Linked DNA regions of Homo sapiens: region 2 is linked to region 1. Evidence: fine-mapped QTL for protein levels in blood plasma. A gene starts in region 1. The other region holds a variant in brackets. All regions are shown on one strand. Distances are between the middles of the regions. Region 1 holds the start of FN1 (fibronectin 1). Region 2 overlaps FN1 (fibronectin 1).

What was found. PIP is the posterior inclusion probability: the model's chance that the variant is causal. Protein levels are from antibody-based Olink assays in UK Biobank. Linkage for the fine-mapping came from a reference panel and not from the study's own genotypes, which makes the PIPs less certain.
Region 2: its variant is fine-mapped to the plasma level of the FN1 protein (UK Biobank, PIP above 0.99). The variant lies in the coding sequence of FN1. If it changes the protein, the assay may bind it differently, which can mimic a change of level.

Annotation. Positions count from the first base shown.
Region 1 is chr2:215,431,194-215,440,007 of GRCh38, forward strand. It overlaps FN1 (fibronectin 1), which reads right to left and starts at 4,875. Exons shown (of 46, transcript NM_212482.4): 1 at 4,462-4,875; 2 at 3,503-3,631; 3 at 2,131-2,268; 4 at 640-771. The coding sequence starts at 4,609. It overlaps FN1-DT (FN1 divergent transcript), which reads left to right and starts at 4,498. Exons shown (of 2, transcript NR_187198.1): 1 at 4,498-5,116; 2 at 5,726-7,752. RefSeq lists an enhancer at 2,187-3,386 and silencers at 4,899-4,958, 4,969-5,058.
Region 2 is chr2:215,410,825-215,427,171 of GRCh38, forward strand. It overlaps FN1 (fibronectin 1), which reads right to left. Exons shown (of 46, transcript NM_212482.4): 7 at 14,270-14,461; 8 at 13,322-13,501; 9 at 12,526-12,702; 10 at 11,267-11,419; 11 at 9,849-9,977; 12 at 8,418-8,561; 13 at 4,013-4,134. Among named protein-coding and RNA genes, the nearest start is that of FN1-DT, 17 kb to the right of the region's middle. RefSeq lists silencers at 62-356, 9,722-10,016 and an enhancer at 12,498-13,697. The variant C/T (reference allele first, on the strand shown) is at 8,462.

The DNA of each region.
Region 1 (8,814 bases):
AATTATAAATGACCAATTATGAATTTTGAGTGGCCTAAATACAATGACAAAGAAAGCTATTTTTAAATATTGGAAAGCAAAACAATACAAAACAAGACAAAAACCTCTAAATTAGAAGACAAGTAAACAGAGTAAAATTTATAGCCAGAAACTTTCAGGCTTGTACTTACAAAATTCAACTGAGGATTGAGATCCAAAGAAGCTCAACAACTTTTAATTTGAAAAGAAATGAGCAGAGTGTGACAAGCACACACTATTTCATGTTTCGGTCCAGGACATTCCATATAGAAATGTGTCCAAAGTGTCATTTTTTTTTCTTTTAAATAAATTATATCTTGACGAAGGAGGAATCTGAGATCAGCTATTAGGTAAAAGAAATGACTCCATTCTAAATCTTTCAATTCTACCTTATGCTTTTGAAGCAAAGTTAAGACTTCTATGTGTAGTCAGTACTTTTTGATCTAACTCCTGTAAGAAGACTATGGATTATATAATAATTCATTATTTCAAACAAAATTCCCATTTCTTTATTGGTTTTCACTGGAATTCAGGTCTATGACCTATGTAGATGTGATTCTGGTCCAACCCCACATTAGAACTAAGCATCCCAGCTCTTGCTCAGCCCTAAGACTCACACACCTATGGGCTTGCAGGTCCATTCTCCTTTTCCATTACCAAGACACACACACTCTAACATGTAACCACCAGTCTCATGTGGTCTCCTCCAGGTGTCACCAATCTTGTAGGACTGACCCCCTTCATGGCAGCGGTCTGTTGAAGATACAACGAAAATGTTAGGAGAGGGCAGAACAGATTTTTTTTTTTGGTCTCATATTCCACCCATGGTAGGTACTTAGGTTGGCTAAAGTAGAGACACAGACAACAGCTTTCCCATCAGAGACAGGGGAAACGTTAACAGGTCTGGTCACTTGGAGTCAATTCAGTTAAGTGTCTTGCTTAGAACACAATGGAAAACCACAGAGAAATCTGGATGGCAAGGAAGAGGTCATGAATCCTGCTTTCCCAGAGAGATCACAGGAAATTGGGTCCTAAGCAGAAAAGAAAGGCTGGGAGGCTTGGTCTTCACTCATACACAGCAGGCTAAGACTGAGACTAATTCAGTGAAAAGGCCACATCAGGCACAGCACTCCAGCTTTTGGGAGCATGGAGAGCCTGTATTTTACCCTAGGATAGAAATGTCATTTTGGTGGAAAGCAAACAGACATATGCATATAAAGTGTGGAAATCCTGGTAGTTTTCTAAGTTGTTAAGCCCAATGGCACATTCAAATGCTGAACTAGATTGTAAACACTATGGACCCTTGCCTCTTGCGATTTGCCTGTGAACTTGGATAAACCCTAACATGAAATATGGGGAAAGTTGATTGGGCCTATTCACACGGGACTTGTTCTTTTGAATAGAAGTCTTTAAGACGACTTATATTTAAAGAATGGATTAAAAAACTTAAATACTATCTTAATAGAATCTATTGGTAACCCAGTGAATCATACTGGAAAGAGTGCCTTAGCTAAACTAGAGTTGAGAATCAGCCCGGTTCCCAAAGTTCCTTAGCAAACTCTATTGGGTTAATAATTTTGTATTATCCCTAGGAATAGTGACATCTGCTTCCTGGGTATAACCTACTGGTCACCAAGAAACCAGACTGTTTCTGTGAGGTGCAAGAGGTCTCTGCATTGCAAACATGAAGACCAGACAACACATGGCTGGTTCACTCTTCATGAACACCTTCCCAGTCACTGCAGAAAAGTCTCATGATTTGTCTAGCTTGAAGATATCCAGGTGATTTAAAATGGGCAACTCCCCTAAGCATGTCTTACTGAAATGGAACCCAAGAGGTCTCTTGGTTCTACTATGTACAGAAACACACACACTCATAAATGCACACACACTCATAAACGCACACACATCAAACACTGATTCCATCTGTGCTCATACCCGTCTTTAAGAAACACAGGAACCAGTTGGGTGACCACTTAAGAGTACCTGGTCACCAGGGGCAAACCTCAAAGTTCGGAATATCCAGTCATGGATAACAGAAAATGACAGTGATGGTAACAGAGAAATTCATATTTGATATTTTGGCATCATTTTACACAATCTCTTCCTTACTTGCGATGGTACAGCTTATTCTCCCTCGCCCAGCCCCGATGCAGGTACAGTCCCAGATCATGGAGTCTTTAGGACGCTCATAAGTGTCACCCACTCGGTAAGTGTTCCCAGTGTACTTGTCAAAGCAAGTCTCTTCAGCTGAGGGGAAAAGGAAAGTCCATGTGAGCCTCACTTAGGTACAAGCTTTTCTAGTTCACTAATCCCCTCTAAAGGAAAACCCACTTCTCTATTCCACAAGTAACATGGTACACCTCAAAGAATAAAATGAAGTGAGAGATACAGATTTTTATCCTAAGCTCTAATAAGGCCATGGTTTTTGACCTTGACATATTGTCAAATTTTCTGTAAATTATTCATATTGTAGAAAAATCTCAGGCTCTTAGGAAAAGGCCATATAAAGTACTAACTTATGACAGAGCTAGATTTGTGAAGGGTTTCACATTCCAATCTCTGACTCAGAAAGTCAAAGCAAGGTTCACATAAAAAGCAAACGATTGGCCGGGCACAGTGGCTCACGCCTGTAATCCCAGCACTTTGGGAGGCTGAGGCGGGTGGATCACCTGAGGTCAGGAATTCGAGACCACCCTGACCAATACGGTGAAACCCCGTCTCTACTAAAAATATGAAAATTAGCTGGGTGTGGTGGCATGTGCCTGTAGTCCCAGCTACTCAGGAGGCTGAGGCAGGAGAATTGCTTGAACCCTGGAGGCAGAGGTTGCAGTGAGCTGAGATAGTGCTACTGCACTCCAGCCTGGTGACAGAGCAAGACTCTGTCTCAAAAACAAAACAAAACAAAAACAAACAAACAATTCGAAGATCCCCACCTCCCACAAGGCCTTGACAGTTGTTAATCCTATGATTTCCATTTTCCCCTGATCAGTGCTTCTCTGACAGAGTTGCTATAATTTATGAGAAAAATATCATTGGTCCTAAAGGAATGAGAACTTTGAAGTGGCTAATGGTTTTGTGTTAACTGCCGCTGACAAATCATTTTACGATGTAAGTCCCCAAAGTGTTTTCTGGCTCATAAACTAACAGTTTAAGATTTGAGACTGCTTTCTAATAAATTAAAATTTTATAAGCAATTTTTTTTGTCGGAGGACACACAAAATCTTTCATTTTTCTCATCAAAAACTTTGGGAGAGTAAAGCAAAAAGAAGACTCTAGGAACTAATTTGGGAAAGATTCGTTTCTTTGTTTTAAAGGTAAAAGCATGTGAAAAGCAAATATAAGCAGTTTTTAAACTTAAGAGGAAATGACAGGTAATTCTATTAGAAAAATGGTGTATGTATTTTTACTTACTAATGCAAAGTTTAACAATTACCACTTCATGTATTAAAAGATACTAACTATGGGGCTTGTTGTCACTTACCTTCAGGTTTACTCTCGCAGTTAAAACCTCGGCTTCCTCCATAACAAGTACAAACCAACGCATTGCCTAGGTAGGTCCGCTCCCACTGTTGATTTATCTGATAGTGTTTTCCATTGTCATAACAACCGGCTGCAAATAATTGAAGGAAAACGTTACATTTGCATTTCTCCTTTTCCCAAAATTATGGAATTTTCTTCATGTGAATATTGACGTACATATTTTTTTCCTTTTAACTTTGCTAAAAGTTATATACAATGATGTCATTTCCATCTGGCCAGGGGTCTACATAAAAAAGTTGGAAACATTTTGGAAGGCAGACAATTGAAGTCACATTTTTAAAACATGCAAGGAACTTAAATATTCTTTTGGAGTAATAGTCAAAAAGGACAACTTTAAGCAGCTTTCTCAAAGCAAAAGGAGGGTGTGTCTTTGAAAAACGGAAAGAATTCCAACCTCTGTTCTTGGTGAAGTATCCTGAGCGGCCCTAAAGAGGTCTGAACCAATTACATCTCTTCCAAGTTAGTTAGAAACAAGACAGCTATTTCAATACCCCCTTTCCACCCCCATGTTGAAAATATTTGACCAATTATTTAACAGAAGGAAATAAGTAGCAGTAAGGACCACACTAATCCCAGACGGAAAATTTATAGACATGCATCATTTTTCTCTTTAAAGGCAAGTTTTGGTTAATTCCTAGAAGGACAATCTGAACGTGCAGAATTTATTAGAACACGGGAAAGTCGCAGAGTCCTCGTCCTCCAATGCACGGTCTTATCATCCCAGGCCCTCAGAACCAGCGTGCTCAAAACTCGGTCCTTTTGTGTGCACAGCTGGTTTCTCTCAGTAAAGCGCGCACACACTCGCACACACGCGCGCGCACAAAACTTCAGCCCCAACTTTGGTCGGCTTTAGGGTCCCATCCCTGAGGCAGCCTGTTTCAGCCCGCGGTCAGTACTCACGCTTGCTTTGACTGACAGCCACCGGGGACTGGGGCTGAACCATTTGCTGAGCCTGCCTCTTGCTCTTCGAGGCTCCCGTGGAGGGCACCGCTGTCCCCAGGCACTGGACGGCCAGCAGCAGCAGCCCGGGCCCCGGACCCCTAAGCATGTTGAGACGGTGGGGGAGAGACGCCCGCACCGGGAGGCAAGTTGCCACCAAGTTTGCTTCCCTTCGCAACCTGCGGGAAAAATCCCTTCTAATGCCTCCCGGGGGTTGTCGCCTCCAAGAAGGTGGGGGCCAGAGGGTGGGGAAGGGGACGGGTGGAGGGACAGAAGGGATGCAGAGGACCAGAGAAGTTGTGGCTGCAGGTCCCCTCTTCCCGCTCGCGCCTGGGGTTCCCTCTCCTCCCCCTGTGCAGCACAGCCGGCGCGGGCGTCCGAGCGCCGGGAGCCGGGGCTTATATGGGACGGTCCCCTCCCGCCCCTCTGGAGGCCCGGGGCGCGGGGGAGGAGAGACCCGCCGGGCTGTCCCCGCCCCGCCCCACCCCACCCGCCCGCCCGCCCGCCGGCCGCCGCAGCCGACCGCGCGCCGATTGGCCCGGGCTCCGGGTGACGTCACGGGGGACTGTGGGTTCGCAGCGAACAAAAGAGATGCTGATGGCCCGCCAGGACTGGGGCAAGACAACTTTTTTTCGGTTTCCTTTGCGGTCATCAAACTTTTTAGGGGATGGGGGAAGGGATGGGAAGCGGCTGGGAGGAAAGGGAGTGGCTGGACTTGTGTGAAGCGAAGGGGTTGCAAGACGCTCCCCCTTCCCTTTTCTTTTTTATTGGGGGTGGTGGTAGTGTTTGAGGACATTGCGTCACCTCTCTTCGGGGTGGAGGGGGGGAATCTCTGCTTATAGGAGTGTATTTTGTGAGGAAGAAAACCCATAAAATATCCACGACCTTGCAGCTGTTAAGAATCCAGACTTTTCAGTCCCAGGGCGGGGCTGCCTTTCCCCCCATCCCGCTCCCTTTCTTTGGACTAAAGGGTACTGACTCGGGACTCCCTTATTTTGTCTTCACAGCTCCCTGTTCGGACTTCTTCCCTTCTCAGCGCTGTGCCTGTCTGGCTCTGAGAAAGGGCCAGCGGGCGAACGGGGAGCAAAGGGGAACAGAGACCTTTAATGAGCTTCTACTAAGTACCGGGAGTTCCGCGGGGCGCTTTGCAGATCCCGGGGAAGTTCAGAGAATGAAGTTTTCTTTTGCAAGGACAAAGTAACAGTTTACTTTTTTACACATGCAGGAAAGCCTTCCTTTCCTGGGGATGGGACGCCCGTTTCCACTGAAAGTGAAATCACTGTGAACAACCTGAAAATTGGAAAGTTGGACCAGCTGTGGGGAGAGAAAGGTCTTCGTGTCCTTTCCCACGTTCACCGTGCCAGTTACACACAAAGCAGAGATTTTTTTGCTTGAATCATTAAAAGCCGGGTGGGTGGGGGGCACCCTATGTACTGTCTTGCCCTCCTTCGGCCCCTTTCTCACATTTATTTGCCATTTTCTTTTTGCTGACAAGTTCCATTACAGAATGCCCCCTCCATCCCCCGCCGCCAGATTTTTTATATTTCAATTGTTATTTACTCCAAGAGTGTGGAAAGTTCTCCTTTAAGATTCCCCCGCCTTGAACTCTAAACTCAGAGTGGAAAGGGAATCTGAAAAGTCTCTCATTTAGCAACACATCACATCAGTCCTTTTTGTCAGATAAACACAGGCACAATTGCTTTTAAAGATCTTCAGAAGGAGGAGTCCACCACTTCCACAGTAGATCCAGAGAGACCCGAACTGAATGCTTTGCCTTCTCCTTGTGTTAGGAGTTCAGAGGTTCCATTTGCTTTAAAACACAAGAAGCTACTAATAAAATATATTTATTTCGGCAAGGTACCTATTTTCTCCAAAAGTTTCACCTTCAGTAATTGCCACAGGAGTAATTAGAACTCTGTGTTCTATAAAATGCCTGACACATTAAAGACACAAAATTAGCATTTGTTTTTATTCATGCAAGGATTTAAAACCAAACCAAAACAAAGCAAAACACCCAGCAAATATCAGTTTCCTACAAATAGTGTAAAAAAACCTCTTGAGGAATCTTTGTGACCCACACTCCAAATTGAAAGAGTGCCATGGATTTCCCCAAATTTAGAATCCTGTCTGGGTTAGAGGATTTTTTTGGAATTTCTCATCACTTGACAAAACAGTTTTCTCTTTTCAAATATAAAAGAGCTCCTTGTAAAATGCTTGGTAAATTTCTGGGAAGCCGAGTGTTTCTTCCAGAGGGAAGGATACCTGGAAATCCGGATGTAAGCAAGATAAACCTGTAGCTAAAGCTTTCTTAAAATTCATTGATTCTGGGGGAAGGAAATAAGTGATTAGAAAAGTATTTGGTCAACCAAAACCATGATAGTTTGATATATTTACTGCACTGAAAATACACTAGAATCATATGCATAGTGGAGCTTGAAGTGGAAAGCCCACCTTACATTTTGGAAGAAACTTTTATATTTCAATCCCATAGATATCTAATTTATTTAAGGAAACAGGATATCTCTGTCTCATAAGAAAAAAAATAACATCTGACTGATTTTTATAGGAATGCTTGGGAGTTTACTCTTTTACTTGAAAGGTTTTTTTTTTTTTTGCCTTTTTTTTTAAACTTTAGAAACAGAGGCGTTTCTTAGTTAAGATAACAGGGCTTACTACAGTATTCTTTAATTATCAAGGTCCCTTGTAACTCTAAGTCTGTTATCTCTAATTGGAGAGATAATTAAATCTTAAAGACCACTCTGACTCTAATTCAACCAACGTGTGTGGTGTCCAGGATCGTTGGACTTCCTTAAGAATTCTATTTTATCCAGGTGGGTTCTTCCTCAGTAAATTGTATTCTCCTATTGGTAGGAAATACTCTTGGATTTCTTTCTTTCTTTCTTTTTCTTTCTTTCTTTCTTTCTTTCTTTCTTTCTTTCTTTCTTTCTTTTTCCTTCTTTCCTTCTTTCTTTCTAAAACTGTATTCAGAGAGAGAAATGTGACAAAAAAAGGGAAATCAATAGAGACAGAAAGTAGATTCATGGGTACCCAAGTTTATGGGCTGGGAACAGGAATTAACTGTAAAAGGGCACAGGGAATCTTATTGAGGTGATGGAAATCTGTGTTCTAAAACTACATTGCAGTGATGACTGTACAATTTGGTAAAAGCTTCAAAATTCTGGGGATTATACACAAAATGAGTGAATTTTACGGTATGTAAATTATGCTTCAATAAAGTTGTTTTTTTCAAAAGTTGATTTTAAAAATTAGTATTTGTTCTTTTTTACTCTTAACCATCTCCTGATTTTGGTTTCAAAGACTTGCTCTCAGGTAGCAGCAACATACACAAGGCGTCCTCATTTCTTCATTTTTCTGAGAGGAAGTTTGCCTTGAATATAGTAGTGGATTTCTTCTACACCAGTAACTCCTTCTGAAACCTACTATTTGTGTGAAGGCATATATGTGGTAGAGACAGAACAAATCTTCATTTAGGACTGTGCCTTGTTTCTTCTTGGAATTGCCATAGTGATAGAATTTTCCCAGAGCCTCAGGCAATTTAAACTTTTTGTAACAAAAAGAAGCACATATATTTTCGGGAACTAGGGGGGTGTGGGTGGCGGGGGGCAATGGTATTGGGAAATTTTATTATTCCAGAAGGTTAAGGAGGAGCATGAGCAATTATGGAAATCTGAATTAAATTGATTTCATTTGTTTTGAAGATTAGCAATGGAGACATTTGATTAAGCACAAAAAATAATTGATCAGATCCAGTCATTTAGAAGGACTGAAATAAAAACAGGCTAGGTGTGGTGATTCATTCCTGTAATCCCAGCACTTTGGGAGGCCAGTGTGGAAGGGTCACTTAAGCCCAGGAGTTCAAGTCCAGCCTGGGCAATATAGTGAGACACTCTTAATAATAATGATAATAATAACCAGATATGGTGACAGGCACCTCTCGTCCCAGCTATTCAGGAGTCTGACATGAGTCCTGGGGGATGACTGGAGCCCAGAAGATCGAGAGATCAAAGCTGCAGGGAGCTGTGATCACACCACTGCACTCCAGACCCAGCCTAGATGACAGAGCAAGATCCTGTCTCAAAAATTTAACATTTAACATTGAAATGTTAAATGTTAAAGGTTACATTTAAATATGTCACATTTAGATGTTACATTTCAAATGTTACATTTAGGTGTAACATTTAATTGATGGGCTGTTTTTCCTGAAACCTTTGGCTTTTATCCTGTTATTAATTTCTTCCAGTTCTGCTAGAGAGGAGGCCATTGACTCTGGAGAGCTCGAACTTTCATTTCATC
Region 2 (16,347 bases), 17 kb before region 1:
AGTTAATTGTGTTATATCAGTAACATAATATGATGAACCTAAGCTTTGCCTCTCTCACTTATTTTTTATTCCTACCACAAACAGATATATTCCTCTCTGAAGTACAGAAATGCCAATGCCATATATTTTATCTTTTAACTCAGTGGGATACAATTCAAGTTTCTTGTCCTGAAAAAACAAAGGCAGAATGTTGCTTTGTGACTCATCATATACCAGGTTCAACGAGTCTGGTTTTGTGACTCATTCTTGGATATGAGCTACCCCATCAGAAGTGGTTACCCAATTTTGGACAAGACTACAGAAAAAATGCAATTTTGGTTTATTTAATCTTTTGCTTCCAGTTTATATTTCACATCCTGTTCAGCTTCATTAATATGCCATGGGTCACAAAACTCAGTGCAATAAAATGTGTATGAAAGAAACACCCTTCAGAAAAGATGAGACTCTTTCAAGTGTAAATACTCTAAACTAATATAAGTCAAAATATATTTTTTGTGCCCAGTGATTTTTAAAAATTACCCAGTCAACCATTTCCTCAATAATTCAAATACTCAAGTGTCCATTTATATTTTTGGAATAAGCGAGAGTGATCGTAGTACTCTTCACAGTGAAATTTTAACTCAAATACACTGTGGAAAATTTTGAAACCAGTCATTGCAATTAGCTCAAATTTAGTAATCATTTTTCAACATGAGCTTGTTTGGTTAGTTATTACAAGAAAATAACAGAAAATAAAGTCTCAGGTGGCATCCATTAGAAAAAACCCTGAATTTTTGTAATTGTTAAAAATCTCAAAAAATTCATCACTGCTGCTTTTTGAAGACTTTCCAATTCAATGTACTTTTTTTTTTTTTTTTTTGAGATGGAGTTTCGCTCTTGTTGCCCAGGCTGGAGTGCAGTGGCGTGATCCTGGCTCACTGCAACCTCCGCCTTCTGGTTTCAAGCGATTCTCCTGCCTCAGCTTCCCGAGTAGCTGGGATTACAGGTATGCGCCACCATGCCCAGCTAATTTTTTTGTATTTTTAATAGAGACGGGGTTTCACCATGTTGGCCAGGATGCTCTCGATCTCTTGACCTCGTGATCCGCCCACCTTGGCCTCCCAAAGTGCTGGGATTACAGGCGTGAGCCACTGCGCCTGGCCCAAAGTACATTTTATACCACTTTTAAGTCTCCCATTGCAATGGTCTCACATAATACTTTGGATATCCTTAATTTTAAAGTAAATAAAATTAATGATGTAATAAGAAGATGAGAGACTAGAAGATATTGGATGCACTGATGCTGTTGATTTCGATCACTGGACATCAAGTTCTGCAAATGGCCAGATTATGGACATAGGGTGAAAGAAGAAAAAGAATGACTTTTCTTTTTTTTTTTTTCATTCACCATTTGTTAAGCAGTGTGCCAGGTGCTGAAGCATTCTAGACTCTACGGAGACTACATTGAGCCAATGAGAAAGACACGATTCCCCTCTTTAAGGGAATCTGTTTCCATTTTCTATTATTCTGGTCTTGCCTCCATGTAGACAACATGCTTACACCTCTATTTGTTTCATTTGTCAACAATAAGTCATATTTACAGAGTCTTTAATATGAGACTTGATGATTTATTTATATATTTATTTATGTTGACACAGGGTCTTTCTCTGTCTCCCAGGCTGGAGTGCAGTAGTGCCATCTTGGCTCACTGCAACTTCCGCCTCTCAAGCTCAAGCGATCCTTCCGCCTCAGCCTCCCAAGTAGCTGGGACTACAGGTGCATGCTACCATGCCCGGCTAATTTTTAGCCACTGTGCCCAGACAAAGTTGAGGATTTAGCTCAATAATACCACCCTTTCCTTCCAGAATCTTGGACATTCCCAGTGTCTGACATTTGTATCATTATATTTGTTCTTCTTGTGTTTATATTTGTAATTTAAAGTATTATATTAAGTATCTTTTTTTTTTTTTTTTTTTTTTACTTCATCAGCTTTTGGTACCATCTCTCAATTCTCTATTTTGAAAGATAAAGCTGTTATCTCCTCTCTTCTCCACCTTCCATATCCACCATTTTTCATGTAAATGTTTACTTTTTATTTTGTCTTGAAGTTGCAACCAAGTTTCCATGACACATCTATAGACCGATCGCATCATGCATTAGAAATACATTCTTTTCAATGAGTCTAACATCATGACTGCTGGGTGGATCAAAGTTTCCAGAATCAAGGTTCAATGGAATTATTCCTCTTTGTTTTTATACCTTAATATTGCTGCATTTTAGTTTGCTTCGTATAGGAATTATTGCCTTATAATACACTTGGGGGTTTTTTGAAACAGAATCTCGCTCTGTTGCCCAGGCTAGGGTGCAATGGCGCGATCTTGGCTCAACTCCCTGCAACCTTTGCCTCCTGGGTTCAAGTGATTCTCCTACCTCAGCTCCTGAGGAGCTGGGACTACAGGCGTGCGCCCCCAAGCCTGGCTAATTTTTGTATTTTTAGTAGAGACGGGGTTTCGCCATGTTGGCCAAGCTGGTCTCGAACTCCTGACCTCAGGTAATCTGCCCGGCTTGGCCTCCCAAAGTGCTGGGATTACAGGTGTGAGCCACTCTACCCAGCCACATTTGGGTTTATTATACATTCCTCCACCTGATTGTCATGTTGTTATTTTAACTGCATTATTTGCCCCTGTGATTAATTATCCACAAGCCTACTTTTTCCATGAAGTCCCTTTTTATTCTTGGAGACCTCAATCCCTGATCCCTCAATCCCATCCTCATCTTTCTGTTCCATCTGTATTGGCTGTCCTCTAAGCCAGCTACGCAGTTGTTGCATTGCAAAGTTTTCCACCTCTATCAGGGGTCTGATTTGGAAGCACTGTTTGCTGGACCCCACAACTTCCTTCATATTTCACTCTTGTTTTTCTGGAGTGTATCTACAAATACCCTTAAAGAAAAGGATATATGGAAGATAAACTGCCTAAAATCTGTCTGAAAATATTATTTTGCCCTCATATTTGATTGATAACCTGGCTGAGTATAGAAGACTTTAAAAGTTTCTTTTTATCCTTGGAACTCTGACACATCAAAGATGCGTCTAGACGTGGTTCTTTCCACTAATTTTCTGGGCACCTAGGAGGCCCTTTTAAATCTGAAAAATTCTGTCCCTCCACTTTAGAAATTTAGAAAAAGAATAATTTTAACAGCTTAAATTTTTCCTGAAGAGTTTAAATTTAACCGCCTGGGTTGGTCAAATTTTGTTTGTTTGTTTCTTTGTAATTGTAGAATTCAATAGCTATGATTTAAAATGGACATTTTTTTCTCCTGTGTTTAAAACAGTGTTTCTCAAATTATGAGCCATGAACTTTGGAGTTAAACAGGGCAGGCTTGAGAGAGTAAGAGAAACTAAAGCTAAATTGACCAATATCCTCCTTATTTGGTTTCTTCAATTTCTAGTCACTTCTCATTAGGAAATCACAGGGCTATTGTTTAAATAAAACCAACTTCCATCCTTTATCTAAACTTCCCTCCCATCATCTCTTTTCCTTCTATCTAAATAAATTCAGTGGGTCAAAAGTAAAGTTTTAAAAATGATCACTTAAAAAGTGAATCAAAAAAGAAATATATTAATTTGGCTTTTTTTTTCAAATTATGAAAATGATGCCAGTAATTTTCCTTTGATGAGGTTGCAAGACATATAAAAACCTTAGATTCTCTTCCCACATTGGGCAAGAACAATCTTAAGCATTATCATTTCTAAGTCCTTGCAAAAAAGATTTCTGTAACATAAAGAGCTAAATTCTTCCAAATACCAGCCCCCCCACCGCAAAAAAACAAAACCCAAAACCAAAACCAAAATCCCCTCAGTCTACAAGTCAATTTAATTGACCACATATTGTTTGTTCACTAAACAAATATAGTAAATGCTATAGGAATAGTTAATCAGAGTTGTTGGCTCAAAAGCTGGGAAAAAAAGAAACCATCAGAATTGATAAGATTAGGAGACTCAGTATCCAAGGTTTCTGGGTGGGATACTCACAGGTCTCCACCTGAGAATGTACTTGGAAATGTGAGATGGCTGTGGTGCATTCCACTGGATGGGGTGGGAGTTGGGCTGACTCGGAGTCTCAGTGATAAATACTTCGACAGGACCACTTGAGCCTGAAAATGAAAATGTAGCATTTAATTATCTTGAATATTCACTCACTTCAACTTAAAACTGTGTACATGGACAGTCATCATTATAAACAGCTTTGCTTGTCGTTAAATGTGAGTATAATAAAATTATCTGGCATTAATCTTTTAAATATTTACGTTGAAAATCAATGCAGCAAATCCATTTTTAGCCGATAATTATTATTCTTCACATGAGAAATGCAAATCATAGTTGTTTATAGCAAATAAAATATATTTTTAAAAAAAAGTCTCTTGGCTTGCTTTTATTTTCTCTACTATCAAAGTAAGAATTGTGAGAAAATTGTGAAACGATCCTACAAAAATAATGTAATACAGAACACAGACTTCATTTACTTATTGTATTGAGCCTCTTTTAAAGCAAATTCTAATTTTGGAAGGTTTTCATCAAGAATGAATCTACTACCTAAGAAGGAAACAACATTCCAAAGGCCATATGAGATGATGTAAAACAAACACATTTCTAAATGGGGGTAGAATCTTAGACAAATAGCAAAGGTAATAATTAAAGACCTAGTTTTATTTCTCATCAGTCTAAGCAGTCTATCAGTTTGGAAAAAACATCAAGTTTTATTTTTATTCAAGAAGTTTACTCCCAAATCACACCATTGATCCATCAAATTATTAAGTGATTAAATTTATTTTTTTTCCAAAATCAGTTGTCAACAGAAATGACTTTATGAAGTGTATACTAAATTCAGTATTTCTACACCTTGATGTATATCACTGTTATCAACAAAATTTAAAGTATGGTTTTGGTTCTTTTGTTTAAAATAAAAGGAAAATAAGGGAAGTAGCATCAATTTCTAAGTAGTGTTAACTCCATTTAAGATAATAATGAAATAGCTAGAAAATTTATGCTTGCAGAACAGAAAACTATCTTTTCTTAAAACACTATCTTTATGATGTCAGTCAATGTTTAAATTACTAGAAATAAAAATTGTGTCTTATAGTAACCTTTTCAAGAATTTCTAACTGACACTCTGTCAAACAGAGCAAAATTTTGTATGTGTAATAAAGCACTTCACCAGATTATTAACAGATTTAAGTTTTCTGAAAGCTTCTAGGAAAAAAAATACATTGATTTTCAAACTTTATTATCTAAGCCATTAAATTCTCTTGGAAAACAAAGCTTTCTGTAGCAGAAAAAATATATAACTTGGATATCCATGTAGATTCAGAAATTCTAAAACAATATGCTCACTTCCACACCAGTAACAATTCAAAGTTGGTTGAAGATTAGCAAATACTTTGAATCTTAATTCCATTTAATGCACATATTTCCAAGCCACATGAACACCAAAATTCATGCATAAAATTATGAGTTTTTCATTTTAAAGTTGTATGTATTTCACAGAACACACAGGATGTTTGTTTTAATCAATTGGCATAAGTCAATTCCATGCCTATCTTTGAATTACCCCTTCTGTTTATGAAGATCCTTACAAATGTAAACACATTTTTAAAGACAACTATTCAAGAAAAATTTTGGAGATGTGACTATTTAACGTACTTCCATGTAAATCAGGAAAGCTAGGAATATCATGTCCTTAATTATTTATGATAATTGGCATAGGGCTATTTAAATATTGATCCTTTAAATAAATCCTACTACAATTTCCTCCATAAAGAGACACCTGATATACACTTTATTTAGTCTTGTCAATCATGATTTTGAGGGGGGACAAGCTTATGATGGATAAATGTCTATTAAGTTTTGAAAAGATAACATAAATGACCTTTACTGTTCACCTCTAAGCCTAATCATATTTCTATGTCCACAAGGACACAAGGAGGAGGATAAAAATGGGCAGGGAAAGGAAAGAAAAAGGGTACAGCAGTGGTTTTTACTCAAGCCAAAGTGGAGTACAACTACAGAGGTCCCTTTTGCTTTCATAAGATTTCGAGCACTGGTGTGAAATTCCACGTTTTAAAATCTAGCCCTGTGGCATAGCCCACCTTTAAAGGAAATGGACTGAACAGCATGGAATTTAGCATGTTTTTGTTCAGGAAGTAAAGAGACTTTGTGTCAGTTATTTCTTAGATCAATTAAATTCCTATATTCTAGCTTATACTACGTATAATTACTCTAGCTTATACTATGTATCCTTTAAAGACAGAAAAGTTAAAAATTATGACATCTTTTACATTATTTAGATTTAAACTTTTGACAGTCCTTTTTCGCTACTGGTAGTTGGTATAACTTTTTAAATTAACTTAATTGGCATATACTAGCTATCGCCATTGTGAAATCTTTACTCCCTCTCTTATTCAATATGAATAAACTAACAATAAAATAGTTGAGATGATACCAAAAAAAGGAGATAGTACAATGTCTACACTTTTAAAATTAGTTTCAAATAAAGTCTAAATGAATAATTTCCAATAGTAGTGTCCTTGGAGAAGTTAAACATTTATGATTTTTTGACTCAGTCCTTTTTTTCTCTATTTATTTTGCTGAGATCTGTGCTTTTCTAGTTGCTTATTGACAAACCAAATGCCTCTTATCTTTTGCTAGTTTGAACAACTCTACCAAGTTCTCTGTAGGAGGAACAAACAAGGCAGGACTCAGAGACAATCTGTTGGTAATCTGCTGTTCCCTTATTCTCACCACACTCTTAAAGCCCTACGTGCTAGGCCACGGAGCAAACCAGACATACAGATAAGCACCAAAGAGCATATCTGAGGTCAAATTCCAATCTCTTCCCTCCGAAATCACCTCTATGCTCAGTGGGATCTTGCTGTTCTCCTTTTTAAAGAGTAGGAGTAAGGTCAACATGTAATACTCCAATACTCAAGGATTCCTTCCTTTCCAGATTTTATCTCCAACATGTCCACCTAAATGCTTCCAGCAAGCAGCTATGTGGACAGCCTTATGTTGAGAGAGACGAAGATCTCTCTCAATCATTCAGAAGGAAATCATTTTCAGCAAATTGCAACACCAATAACAATCATAAATATAGAAACCACAGAGCATTTTTTTAGAAGTTTCTACCATTTAAGTATCATTTGCATCATATAAACAAACAAACCATTCATATACTTATAGTACTTCCACAATCAGATTTAAATATATATTAAGTTACAAAAAATTAAGTGATTCCTACACCTAAATCCTCCAAGAAATACAATTTAGGAGGTTGGTCAATCTGTGCTATAAGCCTTCAAAAGTGAAGTCACCTTCCCCAGCACTGACAGTGTCTGAGGGTTGGGAAAAGCAGAATCTTCCAAGTTCCTAGAAAAGGTGCATCTGGGTGTTTAGTATTTAGGATGGAACATTAAAGGTAATCAGCTACAATCTTCCCATATTACAGATGAGGAAATGGAGGAATGAGGCTTGGCTAACACTACCTTTGGCCAAGTTGTTCCCATAGCTTGTTCTCTGTCACAGTGAATCTTTTATCACAGAGTTAATCTTAATTTCTGTCGCATGCAGATTCTGACACCCTGAAACTCTTTTGTTTCTGAATGTAGGCCATATTTTCAGTCAAACGTTAGTGAAGACTTTGGAGACTTTGCACCTCAGCAGTTGCTCAAATAACTGATGCCTTTTAATTAGCCTTTCATGTTTTATTAACATGTTTTATTATAATCACTCAGTGAATATTTAAATGCAATTTTCCCCCCAAATGAACTAATTACACCTACAGCTAGGCATGATGTCTTTGTGACCTGGAAAAACCCAGCAATAAACATTTGAGAGTGTTTGAACTGTGTGGGCAGAGAGTTGACCAAGTTACTCAACCCTTGGCCCAACATACTGTGTTCCTGGTGGCAACTGATCAAACAAATGAAAAGTTTGATGCAAAGGGAGCTTAGATGACATGTTGAATGAACACGTACCTTATGCTGCATTTCATGCCATCTCTCTATGCAGCTTCTCTGTTAAGAATCATAATATAAAGCCCCAAACCTTTACTCCCAGCATAACTCACTTGGTGGTTTTTATTTCCATGTATGGATATAAGATGAAATTAGCCAGAGTGTCTTAACCTAACAGAATATTTTACAGAGTTAAGAAGTAAAATTATAAACAGGCACATTTTCATAGCCTTCTCTACCTTTTACTTGATAGAGGAAGAGAGAAAAATTATTTTAATCAAAAATTCAATTGATTATTAGATAATAACAAGAGAAAAGGGTGGGAAAGAGGGGAGACCCCCAACTTAGGCATGAGAGCATTAATAATCACTGCCCTGTTGTTATAACCCAATTGGCAGTTCTCAACTTGCAGTAATAGAGCTACTTACTTGGATAGGTCTGTAAAGGTTGGCAATGCCACTCCCCAATGCCA[C/T]GGCCATAGCAGTAGCACTGGTATCTGACACCATGCACATACTTCTCCCATGAATCTCCAATTTGATAAAACGTCCCAGTCTCTGAATCCTGGCATTGGTCTAAAATACATGGAAGGAAAAGATAAACAGCCTTGAAGACTTATAACTACGAATTTAATTTCAGGGTGCTAGAGCATACATTTAGCTTAAATAGAAATTTGCAATTGTTCTTACAAATATATGCAGTTAAAAAAATATTTTGTTCACATTCTTTACCTTACAGGACAGTTTGTAGTAAAAAAAAAACCAAAGTACCTATTAGGAGGAATATTTAGTTTTCTAAAAGGTAATATTTCTAAATAAAAATGTAAAGATTTAGATTTCAGTGTATATTGATAATCTACACATTAATTTTAAATATTAGTTATTATTTTTACCCATATTAATATAACTGGCTTAACATTTAAATAGCAAGAAAAAAATCTGCAATAATTTCATTTTCCTTACTTCTTCAAAATTTAAAGAAACTGTTTGACATTTAAATGAATGAACTAGACTTTACGAGTATACCTGCTGAGCAGCTTCTAAGAAAACCTCTCAGGCTTCTCTCTCAGTTCTGGTAATCTCACGTCAAACAAACGGATGTTATCAGTTTGTTTTCTCAGTGAGCAACCTGTCTCTTTTGGTAAAGAAATAGTAATGGATCACCTTAAACTTTGTAGTGCTGGTAACACAGCTCTTTTAAGGCTCAGCCTTCACTATTTGCTTAGTTCTATTTTGAAGGGCGGCCAAAAAAAAACCTAGAGTGTTTTGGTGGGTGATATTTACACCCTTTGCTCATGCTGTTACACAGCTGGTAAGGAAGTGAGTTTGAGACCAGCCTGACCCACATGGAGAAACCCCATCTCTACTAAAGATACAAAATTAGCTGGGCCTGGTGGCGCATGCCTGTAATCCCAGCTACTCAGGAGGCTGAGGCAGCAGAATTGCTTGAACCCAGGAAGCAGAGGTTGCAGTGAGCCGAGATTGTGCCATACACTCCAGCCTGGGCAACAAGAGCGAAACTCTCTCTCAAAAAAACAAAAACAAAAACAAAAACAAACAAAAAAAAAAGGAAAGAATACTTTTAATAGCATGGATTATCTTTATGATTCTAAACCCAAGAATAAATTCCATTCAATTAAAATAAGCCTAAATTTGTCACCAAATTCAGCAAAAACCAGACGACTACCAATATCGAGATATTTTGGTCCAGTATTAGAGAGAAGACTTTGCAAAGTTCTTTGCAAGCAACTGATCAAAGTCTGGAGCCAACTTCAGTCATGTGATTTCACATAGCTTTTCTTATCTGAAACTTGCTAACCATTCCCCCTGTGCAAACTCATCTAGGGAAATAGGGCTACTCACCGACGGGATCACACTTCCACCTGCCCCGACCCTGACCGAAGCATGTACAGTTCAGCATGTGCCCCTCTTCATGACGCTTGTGGAATGTGTCGTTCACATTGTAAGTGATGTCATCAACAATGCACTGATCTGTTTAGGAAACAGGTGGGTGAGTGAGAAACTTTTTAAAGTTCCATTGATGAAAGAAAAAAGGTATGCTTCTCAAAGCATACAACTACTTCCACTTAATTATCAACACCTTCCACTAAAATAACTTTTCTACAAGCATAGAATAACATTTTTTTCAAAGTTTGGTCAGTAATACAATTTTTGCCAAAAAAATTTTTTTCTTCCCAAAATGTGTAACTTTTGCAGAGGTTACAGTATGCTCAAGTAAAGAATGTGGTAAAATACACTTTCCTGTGAGAAGCCAGTATTTGAACAAATACATGTCTTACTTTCTGAAAATTTCTTGCTTAGTTGATAATTTCCTTTAAATATCTGCTTGTTAGGATAAATAAGAAGAAGATTAAACATATTTATCTAACACCCAGCATGATGTGGTGGTCTGGTCTCTGGAATAGGGGGAAGGGGAGGAGATACTTAGATTTGGGAAATAAAATGTCAACAGTATTCACAACGCTAAAATAAATTAGGCCAACTCTGTTGCTCACTCTTTGAGAGATCCTGAGAAAATTACTTTTTCCTTTTTGGGTCTCAGCTCCTTGATCTATATAGAGTGAGGTCTCTATGTGTTATTAAGGTCTCTTTCAGTTCTGCAACACCACATGTAATTATTACTCCCGGATGGTGTTACCCACTGGACACCACAAAAGGAGAACAAATTCAGACCAATATCTACGCACTAGCCACATAGATTATTAATAGCTCAGGGTTCTCCCGAAATATTACTTTTCATATCAAAGAAATGGAAAACTAAAACACTTTTAAAAAGTCAATACTTCCTCATATTATATAGCTGGGTGCAAAGGAGAAAAACTAATCTGAACAAGGAAAGTTAGTCCCCTATGTATTTGTTTCCTGAAATCTGGATCTGTAAGGATCTGATTTTAGAATAGCAAGGTCTTCATTTCTTTACAGAAATTATCCTATCTTTTCTAGACATGAATCCAGTGGCATAGCCTAAAGCTGAATGGATCAAATGTTTCATTCTTACTTTTGAAGCCATCTTTTTGGCTCAGCCTAAGTACTTACATGCTAGGAGTGTTTCAGAACATTAGCATTGCTATGCCGCTTGTCTTAGCAGGCTGCCTGCTAAGCCTTTCAGGCTTATCTTACCATGCACAGTAGACTAATGAATGACGTGGCATTCCATATTTCTTCCCCTGCTTTTGGCATAGTGCAAGTTTTCATAAAAAAAAGTGTCCCTTTCTGTACCTTTTGCCATCTCAAATATTTTTGTTAATCAGCCAGCATACCTCGAAGCTGCGAGTAGGCAATGCATGTCCATTCCCCACGACCATTCCCAACACACGTGCACCTCATCATGTGACCCATGTCATGCTGCTTATCCCACTGATCTCCAATGCGGTACATGACCCCTTCATTGGTTGTGCAGATTTCCTCGTGGGCTGTTTGGAAATGGATAAGAAATGCACTTGATAAATGATCACCAGGTCTAAACATGTATGTGTGCAAAAGGATCAGTTCAGTTTGGTCATCCTAAGAATTCTCACTTGGGAAGAAGCTTTGTGTGCATCAAAGACATCTAAGTGCTGTCAGGTGAAGGGGTAGAATTTTTGAGCCCTGGAGGCAGAAAACGTAGTCCAAACGTGTCATAGAAAATAGTTACAGGAAGGGTTAGGGGATGTTAAACTAAGATAATATCTACACATCCACACAAAGGGTTCTTGCTGTTCTAGAAGCCTGGATTTAACTACAGCTTCATAACTTTTCCCAGTTCCAGTTTATTCTGGATCAAATAAAAACTATGGGTTTGGATATAGAATTACAAGCAAAAGTGGGTTTTTTCTTCTAAACTCAGCATCTTCTTTTGTTGAAAGAAATAAAAGTATAAGCAATTTCTTTGTCTCATAGTCACACTTGACAGTGCCTACCGCCCAGGCTCTTGTTTCTACAACTGGAAAATTAAAGGGAATCTATGGGGTTCTTGAAATCTGAAAACAAGTAAAAGGTATTCGTTTCCATTTGTTCGCCATCTATACAAACTGGGGACCTTTAAAAAAAGAGTGAGATTCCCTACCTGTTAGAAAACATTGAGTTTTAGTCACTTTGGCACTTATTAATAAGTGATAGAGCTTATGCCCATCAAACCACAACCATGTGTCAATATTGTAGCTCTGTGACTAAAGCCGTCATACATATATTAAATGTTGTAAGCTACTCAGTTGTGTGCTCTTTACAAAGACAAACCTGTGCAAATTCATATTTCCAGACTTACAAATAAGTAATTATATTTTTGACATTAAATCATGTCAATGAGGTTTAAAAATTATATAAATAATTATCTAATTATTCTTCCCAATCCTTATGTATATGATGTAACATCACACACACACACACACACACACACACACACAAACACACTTCACATGAAGTTTTCTGTTGTCTCAAAATTGTGTTAATGAATGAAATGGGAGTAAACTGGACACTAGTCTTTAGTCTCTACTCCCTAAATTGTTGTCAAACAAGACAACCCACAAGGGCTTCATCTTACCAGCCATGGGGCAGAACCCAAACTTCTGGTCGGCATCATAGTTCTGTGTGGTCCCACACCACTTCATGTTGTCTCTTCTGCCCTCAGAAGTGCAATCAGTGTAATTGTGGTTGTTGTATAGGAAGGGGAAGTGGCACAAGGCACCATTGGAATTTCCTCCTCGAGTCTGAACCAAAACTGCCAGGAACAATACACAACAAAGAAGGAAAAGATTACCGCTGAGCTTTCCAATGTACACAGAATTACTGGTCTGAGAGAGCCAGGTTTCTGCAGCTCATTCACAGACAGTCTATCTCAGAATAAAAAATGTCTGATAATATAGTTCTAAGCTTCTTAGCATATTTACCTTCACACCTTCAAAACAGGTTTAAATCCCACTTTCACTGTCATTTCCCCAGCACCCCCCCCACAAAAGATTAAATGATAGCTTTGAATAAAACATTGTTTTAACTGGAAAATAAGCTAAGGCACTAAAACATTCATCCTTTGTATTCCTCAGCCCTGTGGGATCATCTACTGATTCCAAAATACAAGTATCTTTAATCACATCATAATCCCAATGTGTTAAATCAAATGAACTGGAAGGCTACTCCCTTGGTGTCATTTCCCAACAGTACTGGGGAAGATGGAAGAATCCTCAGCTGTTACGTGAGCGCTGCGATCTCTTGAGTCCAAACTGAACAAAAGCGATGCTTCTTGGGCGGGTTCAAAATAAATGGCTAGAATGCTGGCAAATAAAACTAGGGCATGAAAGTGAGTTTTTCTCACTTCTGTGGCTCCCCCTTGGGACACTCACCAGTGTGGTCTGTGCAGAAAGAGTATTTCTGGTCCTGCTCATAATTCGAAGTTGTGCTGCACCAAAGATGTCCGTCCTGTCGCCCTTCTGTGGTGCAGGAGTAGAACGTCCTGCCATTGTAGGTGAATGGTAAGACACATGGCTCTCCATTTGAGTTGCCACCGTAAGTCTGGGTTACAGCTACAATCATAATCAAAAGAGTGTCAGTAAACAGAGATGCTTTATCTCCCACCAGCAGCTGCTTATTTATGGCTTCAATGAGATACTGAGCTTGTGCCCTCAAAGGAAGAAGCTATGAGTATAGATGATCATCTCGTTAATTTCAGTCAAAATGCATTACTCAGGAATCCATGTCTACTGTGGATAGAACGACACCTGAGTTCTTCTGCTGATGTCCTTCATGACCACTTCTGCTGCCATGCCTCAGTTTCTCTATTTGTAAAGCTATATTTATACAGGTCAATTAAGGATGCTGCTTAAGGATGTTGGGATAATATTTATGACTATATCTATGCCATAAAATTAATATATGAGACTATTCTGGGGGAGAATTGTGTAGCAATTGTTATTGCCATAGTGACTACCATGTTTGTAGTGCAGAATACATATATTAGGTTATTGGAAGATGTTTACATCACAAAGCTGCTGAAATTTGAGATTTAGAATATAAAACATTGATGATTATTCAGAAAGTAGCTCTCTTGTAACAACACTTTAGACAGATAAATACAATAAAATTTTTACCCATGATATCCATGACCAGAAAGAAAATACATAAATTAAAAAGATTGGAAGAAACTATTTCAAATGCCAACCCTAATTGTTATCACAGGGTGGTAAGATTACAGGCTTCTTGTTTGTTTTATTGTTTCACATTGAAAATGTATTGTCCTTCAAAAACTAAATAATAAAGTCATCAGTCCTATTCTTCAAAAAGATAATGCATACCTGTCTCTTGGCAGCTGACTCCGTTGCCCAGGCACGTGCAAAGCATTTGCTTATTTCCTTGTGTCTTCAGCCACTGCATCCCCACAGAGTAGACCACACCACTGTCTGTGACACAGTGGCCATAGGGAGGAGGCTGGGGGTGAGGCTGCGGTTGGTAAACAGCTGCACGAACATCGGTGAAGGGGCCAGATCCTAATGGCATGAAAAGGGAATGTCACAAAACTGGGTGAGAGAAGACAATTCACTACTTTCTGCAGTCAGGATCTTCAGGATCTCACAGAGATCACTCTGAAATCTATGTCGCTACTGGCCTGGGACTGGAAAAAAATGTCCCTTATTCAGCAGTAGCTTTTGCATTTAGCCTAGGAAATAATCCACAAGTGTCTACCAAGTGGTCTCCATCCTCCAGCTCAGCTGGGGCTACTGGGATTATATTTCTTTTTGTTTGTTTGTTTTTTGGTTTTTTGGGTTGTTTTTGAGATGGGGTCTCACTCTGTTGCCCAGGCTGGAGTGCAGTGGCGCGGTCTCGGCTCACTGCAACCTCTGCCTCCTGGGTTCAAGCTATTCTCCTGCCTCAACCTCCCAAGTAGCTGCAATTACAGGCACGCACCACCATGCCCAGCTGATTTTTTTTGTATTTTTTAGTAGAGACGGGGTTTTGCCATGTTGGCAAACTCCTGACCTCAAACTCCTGTCTCAAACTCCTGACCTCAGGGGATCCACCCGCTTCGGCCTCCCAAAGTGCTGGGATTACAGGCATGAGCCACCTCGCCTGGCCGGGATTATATTTCTCAATCACAGACATCATCCTGCCACTCCATACAGCAGATACCTTCAACACATCCTCACTCTTCTGAGTAACCGAGCTCATCAGAGGGTGCCTTCAGCAGCTGTCCTGGATTTTCTGGAGGTCACCTCCACCTTCCACATTTTATTTCTCCTCTGGATTATTTGTGATTCTATTGTGTTTTTTCTAAAACCAATTGATCCTCTTAAGACAGCTTTCCTTTCAGAATAACACAACAGGATGTGTTGATCTTTTCTTTTTTCTTTTTTTTTTTTTTTTTTTTTTTGAGACGGAGTCTCACTCTGTCACCCAGGCTGGAGTGCAGTGGCGCAATCTCGGCTCACTGCAAGCTCTGCCTCCCGGGTTCACGCCATTCTCCTGCCTCAGCCTCCCGAGTAGCTGGGACTACAGGCACCCGCCACCACGCCCGGCTAATTTTTTGTATTTTTAGTAGAGACGGGGTTTCACCGTGTTAGCCAGGATGGTCTCGATCTCCTGACCTTGTGATCCACCCGCCTTGGCCTCCCAAAGTGCTGGGATTACAGGCGTGAGCCACCGCGCCCGGCCGATCTTTTCTTTCAACTTTTAGATATCTGTTCTCTTGAAGGCCAGGGCCCACCGCAGAACAGAATCAGGGCTGAGGCTAGACCAAAGGTACACTGAATTCAGTGCCTCCCTAAGTGCTGCTGAACACTAGAACCCAAAGATGTTCACAGACAAAGAATCCCAAGGTCAAACGTACTAGGGAGACATGGCGCCCATCCCCTACACTCTACCATGGAGAGTATGATGTAAAGGAACACACAGATTCTGCAGAGCAGGTTCCATTTTGTTTAACCCATTGCTTCTCAAACTTTTTTGAACAATGGAATCTTTTCAGTATTGGCAATATTCATATATAGCTAACATTTATTGAGTGTTTATCCCCATTTAATTCCCACCTACACTTTTAATCTATTTTGGTAGACTGACATTTATAATTTTTTTTATTTTTTATTTTATTTTATTTTTTTGAGATGGGGTCTCGCTGTATCACCCAGGCTGGAGTGCAGTGGTGCGATCTCGGGTCACTGCAAACTCCACCTCCCGGGTTCATGCCATTCTCCTGCCTCAGCCTCCCGAGTAGCTGGGACTACAGGCGCCCGCCACAACGCCTGGTTAATTTTTTGTATTTTTAGTAGAGATGGGGTTTCACCGTGTTAGCCAGGATGGTCTTGATCTCCTGACCTCGTGATCCGCCTGCCTCGGCCTCCCAAAGTGCTGGGATTACAGGCGTGAGCCACCGCGCGTG